Linked DNA regions of Homo sapiens: region 2 is linked to region 1. Evidence: fine-mapped QTL for protein levels in blood plasma. Region 1 holds a variant in brackets. A gene starts in the other region. All regions are shown on their forward strands.

Region 1 (8,000 bases):
GAAGCTCCAGGCCCTCAATCCATTTCCACTAGGAAGGTGTTTTTTTTTGTTTTTTGTTTTTTTTTTTTGAGATGGAGTTGTGCTCTGTCGCCCAGGTTGCAGTGCAGTGGTGTGATCTCAGCTCACTGCAACCTCCACCTCTTGGGTTCAAGTGATTCTCATGCCTCAGCCTCCCGAGTAGCTGGGACTGATTACAGGCATGCACCACCACACTCAGCTGATTTTTGTATTTTTAGTAGAGATGGGGTTTCGCCATGTTGGCCAGGCTAGTCTCAGACTCCTGACCTCAGGTGATCCTCCCACCTCAACCTCCCAAAGTGCTAGGATTATAGGCGTGAGCCACTGCACATAGCTTGTTTTTGTTGTTTTTGAGATTGAGTCTCACTGTGTTGCCCAGTCTGGAGTGTAGTGGTGCAATCTTGGCTTACTGCAACCTCTGCCTCCTGGGCTCAAGCAATCCTCCTGCCTCAGCCTCCCAGGTAGCTGAGATTACAGGCACGCACCACCATGCCCAGCTAATTTTTATATTTTTAGTAGAGACAGGGTTTCACTATGTTGGCCAGGCTGGTCTTGAATTCCTGACCTCAGGTGATCCACCCGCCTCAGCCTCCCAAATAGCTGGGATTACAGGCATGTAATCCTGTATGAGCCACTGCGCGCGGCCTCAGGCAGCTGTTTTTTTTTTTTTTTTTGAGACGGAGTCTAGCTCTGTCGCCAGGCTGGAGTACAGTGACGCAGTCTTAGCTCACTGCAACCTCCGACTTCCTGGGTACAAGTGATTCTCCTGCTTCAGCCTCCTGAGTAGCTGGGATTACAGGCACATGCCACCACACCCGGCTAATTTTTGTATTTTGAGTAGAGATGGGGTTTCACCATGTTGGCCAGGATGGTCTCAATCTCCTGACCTCGTAATCCACCCACCTCAGCCTCCCAAAGTGCTGGGATTACAGGCGTGAGCCACTGCACCCGGCCCAGGCAGCTGTTTTTAAGGGTGTTCTGCATTGTTTCCAACTTTTCTCTGTGAACCATCCAGTGCTCCAGTACCCATCCCTGTACTGGCCGCTCAGTACTGTGTATGGCAGTTGCTCAGTGTTTCTGCTCAGAGTGGGGAATGGCTGGGTTTGTGCATTCATTTTAAACAGGCCCTGCCAAACTGCCCTCCAAACTGCTGCCACCATTGTGGGTAAGGGGACTGTGGGGTTCCACATCCAGCTACATCCTGATGTCCTGTCTTCCAGGCTATGCTACTTCAAGGGTGACCCTCTACAACCCAACAAAGATGGGGGAAGGGAAAAGCACCACACATGCAGCATATTGGCTTGGTGAGAAGACAGCAACAATAACAGTGACTAGAAGGGGAAGGAGGGCACTAGTATTGATGGTGCACCGTTACCAGGCCATCCCAGGCACGTCACCTTCACAGCACTCCTGCCAGCCACGTAGAATGAGATCCATCTCACTGATGAAGAAAAGAGAGCCTAGGCAGCTTGCCCCAGGTTGCGCAGCTAGTCAGAGGGTGAGGAGAAGGGAATCTAGGTCTAGCTCCCTCCAGAGAGGGTGCCTGAACCACCAAAAGGCACAAGAACAACTGGCACCCCCAGCCAGGCTCCGACTTCTAGGTACTCAGGACTGCCTGGTGAAGAGTCAAGCCAATGTCTTCCCAAGCAACCCAGGAGGTGGTGGAGGTAGCACGGTGGGTGGCAGTGGCTTACCATGGGGTTAGAGTCGGAGATGAGGTCTTTAAGGGTGTCCAGGAAGCCCTGGTCCTCCACCAGCTGGGCGTTGATGTCGTGGAGCTTGGCCACGCACACAGCTGCTGTCTTGCGCACATATGGATCCTCGTCCTTCAGGCACTTCCGGAGTGGCTCGCACAGGTACTCTGTGATCTTGTCAACGCGGATGCAGCCCATGGTCCGCACTGCCAGGGCTCGGATGAGGGGGTTGGGGTCCTCACAGTCCTGGGGGGAACCAGCCATCGGCCAGGGCAGGGGTGGGATGAGCCATCTGTGGCTTCATATTCTCCCTGGCCTGCAGCTCTGAGCCCTGCTAGGCTGAGCGACATCAGATGGCTGCTGTGGATCTTCACCAACTACAGCCAACAACAGCAAAAGTAAATGCTATATAACCAGCACCCATGCCAGCTCTGCACACCATCTCCTCTGATCCTCACAGTAGAAATACAATACGGGTCCCATTTTATAGATGATGAAACTGAGGCTCTCAGAAAGGCTAGGAGCTCATCTGAAGCCACAGAGCAGAGCCGTGATTCAAACCCACATCCACCTAGCATCACAGCCCTCGGTCTTTCCACTGGGCCACAGAAGCCTCATTTCCCCATATCCGAGCACGGACAGGACTCAGGGGAGCTAAGGTTCTAAAGGTATACAAATTCAGAGGTACTGAACATTAGGAGAAAATAAAATTAAAATATAGGTGCACAGAGCTGACAATTTAATCTGAAGGACAGAAAATGGAGAAAGCAGCAGTCTGTAAGGGCAACAGAGAAGCTCTCGGGCACCTGCTGATTCCTGCCCTAGCAAAGCATGCAGGGCAGGGTCCAATCAGGGCAGTGAGGGGATCAACAGGCCTGGCAGGACCTCACACAGGATGAGTTACGCAGGGTCCTTAGCATCTGATTTTCTGGAGAGTGGGAGCCCTCTGCTGGAGGAAGAGGCCTGCAGGCTGGGCGGGCGCGGGCAGTCTGAAGGTCTGGACTCCATCCAGTGCCACAGGGCCCCGCCCCAAAGAGACTGAGGGGAGACAGAGCCTTAAGCACCCAATGTCCCCACGCCCACCAAGCGTCTGCTCACCTTCACAAAGGTGTTGACGGCCATAATGGCCATGTCAGGCTGACTCTTGGCGTAATTCATCAAGTAGAGGTATACTAGCTTCTTCAGCTCCAGGTTGTCCGTCTGCATGCAGTTGACCACATCGGGGAAGAGGGCACTGGAAGGTCAAAATGGTGTCAGCATGGGAAAGGCTGAACAAAGGAAGAGGAAGATTTTCAGGCTGCTAACTAGTGGGTGAGAGGACAGTGGGTAGGAGAGAAAGGAGAGACACACTGGACTTCCTGGTAAAAGGGAGGGTTTCAGGTCTGCTGTTAACAATCAACACCTATTGATAGAAAGGGAATCCCAAAGGGTAATTTTAAAAGCAGGAAAGTCCTTGATTCTTTTCATATAGTTCAAACATGAGTTCTGGAGCCCATCAAACCCACCACTGCCTCTTGCTAGCTATATGACATTGGAGAAATTCCTTTGTCACCTGCCCCCTCGCCCTGAGTCTCAATTTTCTAACTTCCAAGAAAGACGCAACAGAAACTCACTTCACAGGGCCTTTATGATAACTGAATGAGACAACATACTTAGGTATCTGGTCCTTGATATCTGGGAGATGCTGAGTAAATGAAAATGATCCTTTCTCCCTCTCTGATACTTAATGTGGCCCCTTACATTGGGCTGCTGGTTCTGGAGGGTCGCAGGGAAGCAGGATGGCTCATGCTGCTTTCTCCACAAGCTCTGGCACCCGGTAAGAACCAGCACAGCATGCATGGAGCACACACCATACACCAGGCTTGGTGCTAAGAGCTTTACATGCTTGATCTCATTTAACTGCCCTCAGAAGTCAGGGGATGATCCCCATTTCAGAGAACACTGAGGTTCATAAATGTCAAATAACCTGCCTGGAGGAATCAGGTCTGAGAACAAGGTCCGTGCTCATGACCACTGGGTGGAACCCTTCTCAACATGGTACCCGTGGTCCCAGAGTCACAGGCCTTCTTAAGATGTGAAATTTGGTTAGAGATCAATTTTCTATCTCTGAAATCATCATATCCCCTCTCAATTCTTATGTGTTTATAGGAAAGGACGTGTCAACATAGAGACTTAGGAGGTCAAAGTGAACTTCCTGATCCCCAACAGGCAGGAGTCCTGCCAAAGCCAAAATTTATGTGTCACCTTGGAAGATGATGCACCAGGAAGAATGGGGAGGAGGGAGGAGGAAAAACTGCTGATGAGGCCGACTCGCTCTTTGGGGCTTATCATATCAGCAAAGCCAGCTCTTTTGAGATGGAAGAACAAAGATGTTT[C/T]TCCTCTGTGAGGAGGTGACAGTGGTGTGCTGGGTGAAGGAGAGCAGCTTTGTCCTGGAAGGAATCTGACTTGGAAGGAGGCCCAGTTGTCCAGCAGGTACCTGTTTCCTTTCTGCTCTGGCTTCCAAAGGGCTCTCTGCAGAGCCCCTTCCCGGAGCTGCTGGCAGGAGGTCCTTTGCTTGGGGGGCGATCCATGGGGACGTCTGGAGCAGTGGGAGCCTATCTTGGGACCTGGATGGGAGCTGCTCCACCTCAGCACCCGGGTTATGAGGCACAGGGCTGGGCACCACGAGGGCATGGGTGAAAGTGGCCTGGATTTGGATTTCAGAAGAACTGGGCTTGAGTCCTAGTTCTGCCATAAACCATGTGACTCTTAGGCAGTCACTTTATGTTTTTATTTCTTTGGCAGTAAAACTGTCATTACCTACAATATGGGAATTGTAAGGAACTACTGAGAAAACAAATCTCAAAATGTTCTGTGCAGACTCTCAAATACTGTGCAAATATCAAGCTGTTTTAAAATCCAGTCTCTGCCTTTGAGATTTTACAATCTGGTGAGCAGGTAAACACAAGTACACATAACAAGAGAACAGTTTCCATTTAGTGCTGGGTGATGGGAACAGACAGCAAATGCTTTGAGTTTGAGGTAGTGGGCTGGGGTGATCAGGGAAGGAAACACAGGGAAGGCAGACCTTGAATGTTTTTTTTTTTTGAGATGGAGTCTTGCTCTGTTGCCCAGGCTGGAGTGCAGTGGCGTGATCTTGGCTCACTGCAGCCTCTGCCTCCCAGGTTCCAGCAATTCTCTGCCTCAGCCTCCCAAGTAGCTGGGATTACAGGTGCCCACCACCACGCTTGGCTAATTTTTGTATTTTTAGTAGAGACGGGGTTTCACCATGTTGGCCAGGCTGGTCTTGAACTCCTGACCTCGTGATCCACCCGCCTCGGCCTCCCAAAGTGCTAGGATTACAGGTGTGAGCCACCACATCCGGCCTCGAATGGGTTTTTAAAGATGGGAAGACAAGCTGGGTCACTGGGCGCTCCCACAGGGGAAGCATGAGCCAAGGTGCGGCAGCCGCTCTACACACAACCGGCTTTAGCCATCAGGTGCGACAGAGGCTGCACACCGGTGACAAATTAGAGAAATCCAATCTGCACGTGTGTTTTACTTGCACCACACAGTGTTTGTTTAATATCATCTGGCCACTTAAGACAGGGAGATTTAAAATGAAAAATCCAGATTTCCCATTCTTCTTTTTTTTTTTTTGAGACTGAGTCTCGCTCTGTCACCTGGGCTGGACTGCAGTGGCACAATCTCAGCTGAATGCACCCTGTGTCTCCCAGGTTCAAGCAATTCTCCTGCCTCAGCCTCCCGAGTAGCTGAGACTACAGGCATGCGCCACCATGCCCGGCTACTTTTTGTATTTTTAGTAGAGACAGGATATCACCATATTGGCCAGGCTGGTGTCGAACTCCTGACCTCGAGATCCGCCCGCCTGGGCCTCCCCAAGTGCTAGGATTACAGGCGTGAGCCACCGCGCCTGGCCCAGATTTCCCATTCTTTTAAAAACCAGAAGACCTGGCCACACTGGGTCCTCTTCCCCAGCCAGTACTGATCCTCTGGAGTTTCTGAGAGGGTTCATGCCACACCCACTCCATTGCCTGCTGCCTTTCCCACCTACTCCAGTTAACTCACTCCATAACCACCTGACCTGTCAGTGTCTGGGCTCATGATTCCTGTGTAAACAAAACCTTCTATTGGGAAGAAAGTTTTATGAAGGGAGCTGTATGAGGGGAGACATGGGTCCCTAGACACCCTAAAGGAGAGACTGAAGTGGACCCAAGCTATAAACCCTCCCCTGTCAGCCAGCTTCTAGCTGCCACCAGGCCTACTCCTGCACACCTGACATCTTTGCCCACGGTCATCGATGCAATCACTTTCTTCACTGCCTCCTTCTTCTTCTCCTTCTTGTCACTGTTGAGCTCTGCCTTCAGCTCGAAGATCTCCCCTAAGGAAAGGAGGCAAGCATGAGTGATCCCTCCCTACCCTGGCAGGGGACAATTCCCAGTATCTAACTTCCAAAAGAACCGGAGGGAGGCACGTAAGACATCCTATGCTGTTGGCTGAGGGAAGCTTCAGGCGCCTGGCCTCAGGTGGGCCAGGCAACAGTGAGGGATGACTGTTAGGACAGGAATTAACAAGATGGAAACTTGTAGGCCGGGTGCAGTCGCTCATACCTGTAATCCCAGCACTTTAAAATGCTGAGGATTGGCCAGCACAGTGGCTCATGCCTGTAATCCCAGCACTTTGGGAGTCCGAGGCAGGCGGATCACGAGGTCAGAAGATCAAGACCATCCTGGCCAACATAGTGAAACCTTGTCTCTATTAAAATACAAAAAATTAGCCGGGCATAGTGGCGCGTGCCTGTAATCCCAGCTACTCGGGAGGCTGAGGCAGGGGAATTGCTTGAATCCGGGAGGTGGAGGTTGCAGTGAGGCAAGATGGCGCCACTGCACTCCAGCCTGGCGACAGGGCCAAGACTCCATCTCAAAAAAAAAAAAAGAGGCTGAGGATTACTTGAGCTCAGGAGTTTGAGATCAGCCTGGGTAACATAGTGAGACCTCGTTTCTACAAAATAATTTTTTTTAATTAGCCGGGTGTGGTGGCATGTGCCTGCCGTGCCAGCTACTCTGGAGGCTGAGGCTGAAGAATCGTTTGAGCCCAGAGATCGAGGTTGCCGTGAGCCATGACACCACTACACTCCAGCCTGGGGGACACAAAGTGAGATCCTGTCTCCAAAAAAAAAAAGTTTAGAGGCCACTCTGGATTGAAGCAACAGGAACCATGGAAGCTACAAAGGTTCTGAGGAAGACAAAAGCATCAAAAACATGATGGCAGGCTCTGCTCAGCCAGGGAGCTAAAACCCCAGTGGAAGGCAAAGCTGTCCTCAGCTACCCTCACTCAACAAAAGACCCTTAAAAGGCTCAGTGCAATAGAACCTGAGTACTTAAGGCTTGCGGGGTGAGAGCAGGATTTGTGGATTCCCACATGAAGGCCTTTCCTGTTTTCCTCAAACCTCTAATTAAAACAGCTTGTTCAGGGTTTCACTTCCTGAGACACAAGTGGTTGGTTGCTCAGCTCTGAAAACAGGAATTCAGCTGCTCCATGAGAGCTCAAGCATGAAATCAATTGTTCTGAAGAACTTCATGACATGAAAAAAACAAATGAGGAAGCAGGGTTGTCTGGCCCTGCCATGGACAGATAGTCAGGACCCTGATAACAGGTTAGGAGGGCAGATGTCATTTCCTGACCCCTTCTCTTTTATTTTTTATTTTTTTGAGACAGAGTCTTGCTCTGTCACCCATGCTGGAGTGCAGTGGCCCCATCTCAGCTCACTGCAACTTCTGCCTCCTGGGTTCCAGCAATTCTCCTGCCTCAGCATACCGGGTAGCTGGGACTACAGGCGTGCGCCATCACACCCAGCTAATTTTTGTATTTTTAGTACAGACGGGGTTTCACCATGTTGGTCAGGCTGGTCTTGAACTGATCTCGTGATCCGCCCGCCTTGGTCTCCCAAAGCACTGGGATTACAGGCATGAGCCACCACGCCCGGCCATTTTTTTTTTTTGAGACATAGTCTCACTCTGTCACCCAGGCTGGAGTGCAGCGGTGCGATCTCGGCTCACCGCAACTTCCGCCTCCCGGGTTCAAGCAATTCTGCTGCCTCAGCCTCCCAAATAGCTGGAACTATAGGCGGACACCATCAAACCCTCCTAATTTTTGTATTTTTAGTAGAGACGGGGTTTCACCATGTTGGCCCGGCTGGTCTCAAACTCCTGACCTCAGGTGATCCACCCGCCTCAGCCTCCCAAAGTGTTGAGACTACAGGCCTGAGCCACCATGCCCGGCCCCTCT
Region 2 (8,767 bases), not on the chromosome of region 1:
TAGTTTTCAGTGGACAAGTCTTTTGTCTACGTAGTTAAATTTATTCCTAAGTATTTTGTTCTTTTTGATTCTATTGCAAATGGAATTTTCTTAATTTTATTTTCAGATTGTTCATTACAAGTGTATCAAAATTCAACTGATTTTTGTGTTTTGATTTTGTGTCCTGCAACTTTGTTAAATTTGTTAGTGCTACAGTTTGTGTGTGTGGTGTGTATGTGTGTGTGTGTGGCGTGTGTATGTATGTGTGTGTGGTGTGTGTGTGTGGTGTGTATGTGTCTATTGTGTATGTGTATGTGGTATTTGTGTGTGGTGTGTGTGTGTGTGTGTGTGTGTAAGCTTTAGGACTTCCTACATTTAAAATCAGGCCATCTGTGTACAGAGATAATTTCACTTCTTCCTTTTTAATTTGGATGCTTTTATTTATTTTTTTCTTTCCTACATGCTCTTATTAGAACTTCCAGTACTAAGTTGAAGAGAAGTGATGAAAGCAAATAAAAGCACCAATCAGAACACACAGTCCTGACATTTGGAGGGCTAAATCCTTGTTGCCCGGCCTGGCCTCACCTAGCTGCACTGGGCGTGTGGGCTGCTTCCCCCTTCACAGCTGCCTGACACAGCCATAACCACAGGGAGAAGCTGAAATTCGCTGAAATGTACCAGCCTCTTTATCAAGCTCTCCCTTGGATGCTCCAAGTTTCTGACTAGACTAGTTCCCAAATACAGATGGTCCTTGACTTAGGATTGTTAGACATAATGATTTACCCACTTTATGATGATGTGAAATAGAAATGGTGCATTCAGTAGAAAATGTATTTCGAATACCCATACACCCATTCTGCTTCTCACTTTTAGTACCATATCCAATAAATTACGAGATACTCAACACTGTATTATAAAATAGGTTTTGTTAGATGATTTTGAAATAGAAGAGTTCCCTTATGACCCTCGCAGGGGGTGCGACAGGAATGAGGCTTGCTCCTTTGGTGCCCTGCTGCTCAAACCCCTAGGGGGGAGCATGCAGCATGCAGATGGGCAGGTGCAGAGGCTGTGGGGAGTGCTTTTGGGCTCCACCCCACGGCAGCATCTAGGACTCCTGAAGCCCAAGTGGGCGTGTGTTACAGTGTGCTCTTTCAGCTATACCATCTGCAGACAGCTTGTGTTAGTCAGCTCAATAGACCCTCTGCCTTATCACAAGGACAGGGAGGCAGTGTGACAGCCTGAGTTCTTGCCCAGTGTACTGGAAGAATCAGATCACATGTGGGCTGGAGGGTTGAGTGCAAGGTTTTATTGAGTGGTGTAGGTGGCTCTCAGCGAGATGGATGGGGAACTGGAAGTGGGGAGTGGAGTGGGAAGGTGGTCTTCCCCTGGAGCCAGGCTGCCTAACCCCCCAGACTATTCTCCAACCACTGCTGGCCAAACTCCCCTTGGTGTCCAGATGTCCTTCTTCTCTCTTTCTCTGCTGCGCCACCCCACTGCTCTCCACTGCTCTATTCCTTCACTCTTCTCAATGTTTAGCGCTTGTGTCTATGCCCATTAAGGTCTCAGGTTTTTATGGGCACAGGATGCGGGGTGTGGTGAATCATAGTGGTCTTGGAAATGTAACATTTGCGCATGAAAACAGGAGTGCCTGTTCCCACTTAGGTCCGTGGGCACAGGTCCGAGGGTGGAGCCCTCGCCAGGGATCCTGCCCTTCTCTACCTAGCACTTCTCTGCCTCCTGTCCCTATCAATTTTGCCCAGTTGGAAGCTAATGTAAGTGTTCTCAACACGTTTAAGGTAGGCTACGCTGAGCCGTGATGTTTGGTAGGTCAGGTGTATTAAGTGCATTTTTGACTTAGCATATTTCAACTCACATTGGGTTTAACAGGGCCTAATTTGATCATGAGTAGAGGAGCACCTGCAGTTACTTCAGTCAGTTCCTGTCCATTTGATGGCTGCTTAGATGGAGGGATGAATTCCTGGAGTTTCCCACACCACCATCTTCTGTGACATCCCTTCCCCAAGATTTGGATTTATTTTTTGCCCCAGTGGCCTCTTGTAGCCTGATAAATCTTTGTTTCAACGAGGTCAAGGTCATGGGGTAAATTCTTTGTGGGGTGGTTGGCTGCATTTTGTTTAAACTTCACAGATTTTAGTACTGATCCTAATTTTTAATTTTACTAATGTGATATACACACTTATGTAATTAAAAAACAAACCCTGGGCCAGGTATGGTGGCACACGTCTGTAATCCCAGCACTTTCAGAGGCCAAGGCGGGCGGATCACTTGAGGTCAGGGGTTTGAGACCAGCCTGGCCAACATGGTGAAACCCCGTCTATACTAAAAATGCAAAAAATAGCTGGGCATCATGGCACGCGCCTGTAATCCCAGCCACTTGGGAGGCTGAGGTAGGAGAATCGCTTGAACCCGGGAGGTGGAGGTTGCAGTGAGCCCAGATTGCACCACTGCACTCCAGCCTGGGCGACAGAGCAAGACTCTGTCTCAAAGAAACAAACCAACCCTGAATGTGATTATATACATAATTCAATTAAATGTATTTGCTTCTGAAATATATATAAATGTAAATTAGGCAGTCACTTTTGTATATGATTTATTTATATTTGAAAGCCACAAATGACCCATTTAAACTATTATTTTCATAAGCCAGTGAAACAATGTCTGAGAAACATTTTTGTTTTGTCTGTTCTGTTCTATAACCATCATTTTTTTTTTCAGTCATGTACAGCCTTAGTGACAAAGAAACTTTGGTCCTCTGTCCTACATTTTCACTATCTTTTTCCCTCCGGTCAGGATAATCTCAAATTTACATGTTAAAAACAATCAGTAAGAGAACTACATCACATTTCTAATAGGATGGAAACTTTTCAACTTTATCACAAAGACAACGAATGTGGAGGCTTTCCGTTTGAAGATAAAACTATTCATTTAAAAAATTTTAAAAATTACAATGTTTCCAGTAGCTTCTTTTTGAATTACTAACATATTCCACACTCTAGTAACGGTTTGGCCAGCTAATCGTTAGTTTCTGCTTTAAAATGTTCTAAATTCCTGTTCTACTTTTGAAAAATGACAACATAAATGTTTGGAGGGTTATTTTCTGCTTAATGAAAGATCTAGAAACATATTTTATTCTAAGAAAGAATTCCACTTGCCTTTAAATAAAGATATACCTTTTGACCAAACAATCAGATTTTCTTTTTCTTTTTTTTCTTTTCTTTTTTTTTTTTGAGATGGAGTTTCGCGTCTGTCGCCCAGGCTGGAGTGTAGTGGTGCGATCCTGACTCACTGTAACTTCCACTTCCCAGGTTCAAACGATTCTGTTGCCTCAGCCTCCTGAGTAGCTGGGCTTACAGGTGTGCATGATCACACCCGGCTAACTTTTGTATTTTTAGTAGAGACGGGTTTTTGCCATGTTGACCAGGCTGGTTTCAAACTCCTGACCTCGGGTGATCTGACTGCCTCGGCCTCCCAAACTGCTGGGATTGCAGGCGTGAGCCATTGTGCCTGGCCAGATTTTCTTTTTCTAGCAAGGGGACCCACTTAAACTTGAAGAGGACCGGGATGGTTGAGGCTGGGCAGCAAGGCTTTACTGCAAATCCTTTACCACTGTTTTTTCTGGCTTTCTAGAGAACGTTCTAGCAAAAGGTTTCTAGAACTTTCTCCTTCCTGGCCTGACTGACATTCCCTCTTAGGTGTAGCCTCCTTTTCACTTTTCTTCTGCCTGGAGGAAATGAAGCTCCACGGAACTTTCTGTTGAAACTTTCCAAGAAAAAAAAGAAAGGCTCTAAGCACTGAATGTGGAAACTGAAGGGGATGAGCTTCAACTCTGAAGTGTTTCCAGCGTAAAACTGTCCTTTCCAGGGCCCGTGTGGCTGTCACTTCAGAGTGGAGGTTGTCTGCTGAGGGACCCCTGACTCAGCTGCTTCCCAGGGGAAGCTCCGTCTTCCGGCACAGGTAATGGCCTGCAGCTTGATCTCCACCCAGCCCCATCTGAGCAGGCCGGGAGCTCCCAGGCTGTTTCACTTCTCTCCTTCCTGACTCCTCACCATCACCATCGCCCTCTCTCCTCCCCACCCCGCCACTCCTCTCCCACACGTGTCCCTTTCTCCCCTTCCTCTGCGTCTGCTCTTCTCAGAAGTTAGCTTACGAAGCAAAGTTGTTACTTTGAATTCCTGTTTTTCCAGCCACCCTCATGTGACAGGATGTCTCCTCAGTAGAGGCTTTCCCTAAATTCAGGAGCCCTTTAAAAGGGAGGGCTTCCTCTGTAGTTCTTTTCAGCTGGGCAGCTCTGGGAACTTGGATTAGGTGGAGAGGCAGTTGGGGGGCCTCGTTGTTTTGCGTCTTAGTTCCGCCCTCCTGTCCATCAGGAGAAGGAAAGGATAAACCCTGGGCCATGAGGCTACCCCTGCTCCTGGTTTTTGCCTCTGTCATTCCGGGTGCTGTTCTCCTACTGGGTAAGTCTGCTCTGAGGCAGGGGATCTCTGACCTGGGGGGCCGGAACCACACCTTCCTCTTCTGGGTTACTGTGAATGGGTTCCTTTCAACATCTTTGTGAGGAGGAAACGGGGTTCCCCTGCACCACGCAGTCCACGGCTAAGCCTGCTGCCTTCACCTGGCGGCCAGGCATGGGAGGCCTGGAGTTGGAGGAGGGAGGAGGATGCGTCTCAGGTCTCGGTTGCTGCCCTGCCGGGAACCCTACAGACCTTCAGTGTCCTCCTGACTTCTCTCATCGCTCGTTGTTCCTTCCCTGTTTTCTTCGTGCAGAAATTTCCTGCTCTGTGGTTTACTCTTTCTGGTTTTCAATTCACACTATTTCTGTCTCACCGCCAACAAACACCTTCTGAGTGTCTCTGGCTGGAAGGAGGGCAGCCCTGATGTCTCCCCGCGTCTTAGGTCCGAGGGTATCATCGCAGATCATCCCCCCAAAAGAGATTCTAAGCAATTTCCATACTCATTTTTTTTTCTGCCAGAATCATTCAGACACTTGATTGTTAGAAAGTTCATCCTTATCTGTATTCTAGACTATTCAAACTGCCGCATAAGCAGATCGATTCCTGTTTTTCTTCTTTTTCTGGAGATTAGAGATTACTCATTAGGAACAGCTCCAGAGTTGTTCAAATTCTCAAATACCTTTTCCAGTCTGTCTTTTCTATTTCTCTATACTCAGTTGCTTAAACTTCAGGATGGGAGTGCCTCGGGGGATTTTCATTCCTGGTTCTATTTGGAGATGATTTAGAAGAGATTTCAAATTTGATTTTTTGATTTCTGATCCCCCTTTAATTCTATGAAATCAACAAACACTTGCAGAGAATGGTTTGTGCCTACGATCTACTCTATGCACTGATGTGAAGGCGGGTGGGAAGTTTCCTAGGAAGAGAGTGTTTTAGTACCGCAAATGTTAAATCATAAGTATTGAGTGGTAGTGATTACAAAAACACAAGTGAAGGCGGTATGGTTTACATCCTGTCTCTCTCACTCACTAGCTTTGCGACCTTGGGCAGGCTACTTTATTTCTTTGTGCTTTAGTTTCCATGTCTATAAAATGGAAAGAATAATATTACCTGCCCCCATCAGTTCTTGTGATGATTCAATGAGTAACAATATGTGAAATGTTTAGAACAGAGTATGACCCATAGTAAGTGCCTTATAAGTGTTAGCTATTAAAATCAGTGGCAGAAAAGAAGTACATAAAAGGCCAAATAAAAAGGATAGATGAAATTAATTTTATTTTTATTTTTGAGACAGATTCTCATTTTGTTGCCCAGGCTGCAGTGCAGTGGCATGATCTTGGCTCACTGCAACCTCTACTTCCTGGGTTCGAGTGATTCTCCTGCCTCGGCCTCCCAAGTAGCTGGGATTACAGGCATGCACCACCATGCCCAGCTGATTTTTGTAGTTTTAGTAGAGACAACGTTTCACCATGTTGGCCAGGCTGGCCTCGAACTCCTGACCTCAAGTGATCTGCCCTCCTCAGCCTCCCAAAGTGCTGGGATTATAGGCATGAGCCACAGCGCCCAGCCCTGATATTATTAATGTATTTTATTTCACCCAGTAACTCGGAAATATTATCCCTCAACATTTAATCGATTTGGAATATTTTCCCATTCATTTCTTAAAACTAACTCTTCAAAATCTGGTGAGTATTGCATACTTATAGCATGTCTCAATTCACAGTAGTGTCATTTTAAGTGTACAATGGTTACATGAGGTGACTGGCTATCATACTGGGCAGCACAGACACAGTGCCTAATTTTCTTTAAACTGACTCAATAATGCTTTGAGCAATAGTGTTTCTCGGTTTGCTCAGGAGTGTTTCCCTCTTCCTGACAGCAGGATGCCCTCCTCTGACTAATGTCTTCCTCTTCATAGGCACAAATATTGGGGAGAGAAGGGGGATGCTGAAGATCTGTTTACTTGGAGAATAAACAAACAAAAAATTCAAGGGACCCCCCTTCCAGATTTTTTTTTCCTACGTGAAAGCCTGTAATTTGTGTTGTTTTGTTTTTTGAGACTGGTTTCACTCTGTCACCCAGGCTGGAGTGCAGTGGTGTGATCATGGCTCACTGCAGCCTTGACATCTGGGCTCATGCAATCCTCCCACCTTGGCCCACTCCCAACTCCCCAGTAGCTGGGACTTTGGGCTTGAGCCACTATGCCAGGCTAATTTTTAATTTTTTTTATTTTTTTTTATTTTTGTAGAGATGGGGTCTCACTATCTTGCTCAGGCCGATCTCAAACTTCTGGGCTCTGGTGATCCTCCCACTTTGGCCTCCCATAGTGCAGGATGATAGATGTGAGCCACTGCACCCAGCCTGTAACTTTTATTTTATCTTTTCTTGGCCCGAGAAGCATGTGATTGGAGGAATTTGTGTAAAGGCAGGGCACCTGCTTAGTTAGCAGCAGGTTAAACTATGCGAAGCCCCAACACCTCTCCCCTGGCTTCCTGCCCACTAGGAAAACCCATGGGAAGGTCTCCCTACTTGCCATCAGTTTATTTCTTTTCAATCCACACCCCTTCCTTCCACCTTCAGGAGAGCATCCCACAGCATTAGCACCATAAGTCTCTGTGGGCTGCTGCCAACGGATGGGCTGGTTCTCCCTGGAGGGGTCCAGGAGTCTAGAGGTTAACAGGGCTAGACGCTCACCTTTCCTACTGTTGTTCTTGCCGCACTATCTTTTTAGCACTCAGCAGCAAGGTTTCCAGCTCAGTTGGGTTATAATCATGGTAGATGCACCATGAGAGCCGGTGGGACACAGAGGTTAGACCACAGCAAAGAAGTTTAACTTGGAAATGGGAGGGTTTGGCTCACAGGTAGTGGTGTATTGGCAAACAACTACTGGTTCCAAGAAGGAAAAGAAAGGAAGCACTGATTTGACTTATGCTGTTTTGCTGTTTACTGATGTCCATGCTGTAAATATTCCCACCATGGTTGATTTCAAGCTACTGACTTGATGCCCCTGGGGGCAGAGTTGGGAAGAGATGCCAACAGTAGGCTTTTTTTTTTTTTTTTTTTTTTGAGATGGAGTCTCTCTCTGTCACCCAGCCTTGAGTGCAATGGTGTGATCTTGGCTCACTGCAACCTCTGCCTCGTGGGTTCAAGCAATTCTCCTGCCTCAGCCTCCCGAGTAGCTGGGATTACAGGCACCCGCCACCACACCCGGCTAATTTTTTCTATTTTTAGTAGAGATGGGGTTTCACCATGTTGGCCAGGCTGGTCTTGAACTCCTGACCTCGTGATCTGCCCACCTTAGCCTCCCAAAGTGCTGACATTACAGGCATGAGCCACCACACCTGGCCAACAATAGGCTCTTGCTAGCTGCTGCTATTGGTCCCAGGGCAATATGGAGCCTTTCTAGGCTCTGGGAAGGCGCTCAAACAGTGGGTCAGGTAGTATCATGAAAAGCCTAGAACATCTGCAAAAAATGATAATGAGAGACGTCTTGGTGGACAGAGAAGCCTTAGAATCATAGACCATTAAAGCAAGAACAAACTAGGAAATGATGCATTTTGACATCATCATTTTATAGATGAAGCACCAGGCTCAGGGAGGTAAAATGTCCAGAAGGTGACTGTTTAGCAGGTAGATGTAGATCCAGGACTTTGCTCAACGGCTTGTACTTTTCCACATCCCCTTAGATTTCTTGCTGCGCTGTTAGATCAAGTAAGTGCAAATTAGGTTATTCCTGTTGCCATTTGCGGGTCTCACATTTGGCTGGAAGGGATCCAACTGTGGTTCTGACATAGACATCACGCTAATGGTATAATCCTGATACTCCTCTATTTCATTTCCCTCGTTGAAATGCTAAGAAAGATAATTATTATCATGTGATTATCACAGTAGTGGTTTTTCACAAGCACTCTTGAAAACTTTGATTCCAATATAAATGTATGTCTTATGGTAAATATTGATTCTTCAGTGTATTTTTTCACAAAACTGAATTAAGTGGGAGAAAAATACAAGCACCTTTCTCCTTTTTAAATTTGTTCTCCATCTTTCTCAGTGTTTGTATCTAGAAGGCTGAGCTAACTTTTATGCTTTGGAACATAGGGCTAGATTTTATATATATAAATATATACATATATATATATACACACACACACACACACATTATATATATATATATATATTTTTTTTTTTTTTTGAGACAGGGTCTCACTCTGTCATCCAGGCTGGAGTGCAGTGGCATGATCATTGCTCACTGTAGCCTTGACTTCCCGGGGTCAAGTGATTCTCCCACCTCAGCCTCCTAAGTAGCTGGCACCACA

Which allele goes with the higher level. Alleles are on the strand shown, and positions count from the first base shown. The strength of an association depends on the size of the effect and on how common the allele is.
As copies of C replace T in region 1, the plasma level of the protein whose gene starts at base 4,276 in region 2 goes down (weak association).

What was found. PIP is the chance, under the fine-mapping model, that this variant and not a neighbour inherited with it causes the effect. Protein levels are from antibody-based Olink assays in UK Biobank. Linkage for the fine-mapping came from a reference panel and not from the study's own genotypes, which makes the PIPs less certain.
Region 2: it holds the start of MRC1, and the variant in region 1 is fine-mapped to the plasma level of the MRC1 protein (UK Biobank, PIP above 0.99).

Annotation. Positions count from the first base shown.
Region 1 is chr22:29,357,014-29,365,013 of GRCh38, forward strand. It overlaps AP1B1 (adaptor related protein complex 1 subunit beta 1), which reads right to left. Exons shown (of 23, transcript NM_001127.4): 3 at 5,988-6,093; 4 at 2,811-2,946; 5 at 1,713-1,958. Among named protein-coding and RNA genes, the nearest start is that of AP1B1, 28 kb to the right of the region's middle. The variant C/T (reference allele first, on the strand shown) is at 4,088.
Region 2 is chr10:17,805,073-17,813,839 of GRCh38, forward strand. MRC1 (mannose receptor C-type 1) reads left to right here and starts at 4,276. Exons shown (of 30, transcript NM_002438.4): 1 at 4,276-4,454. The coding sequence starts at 4,394.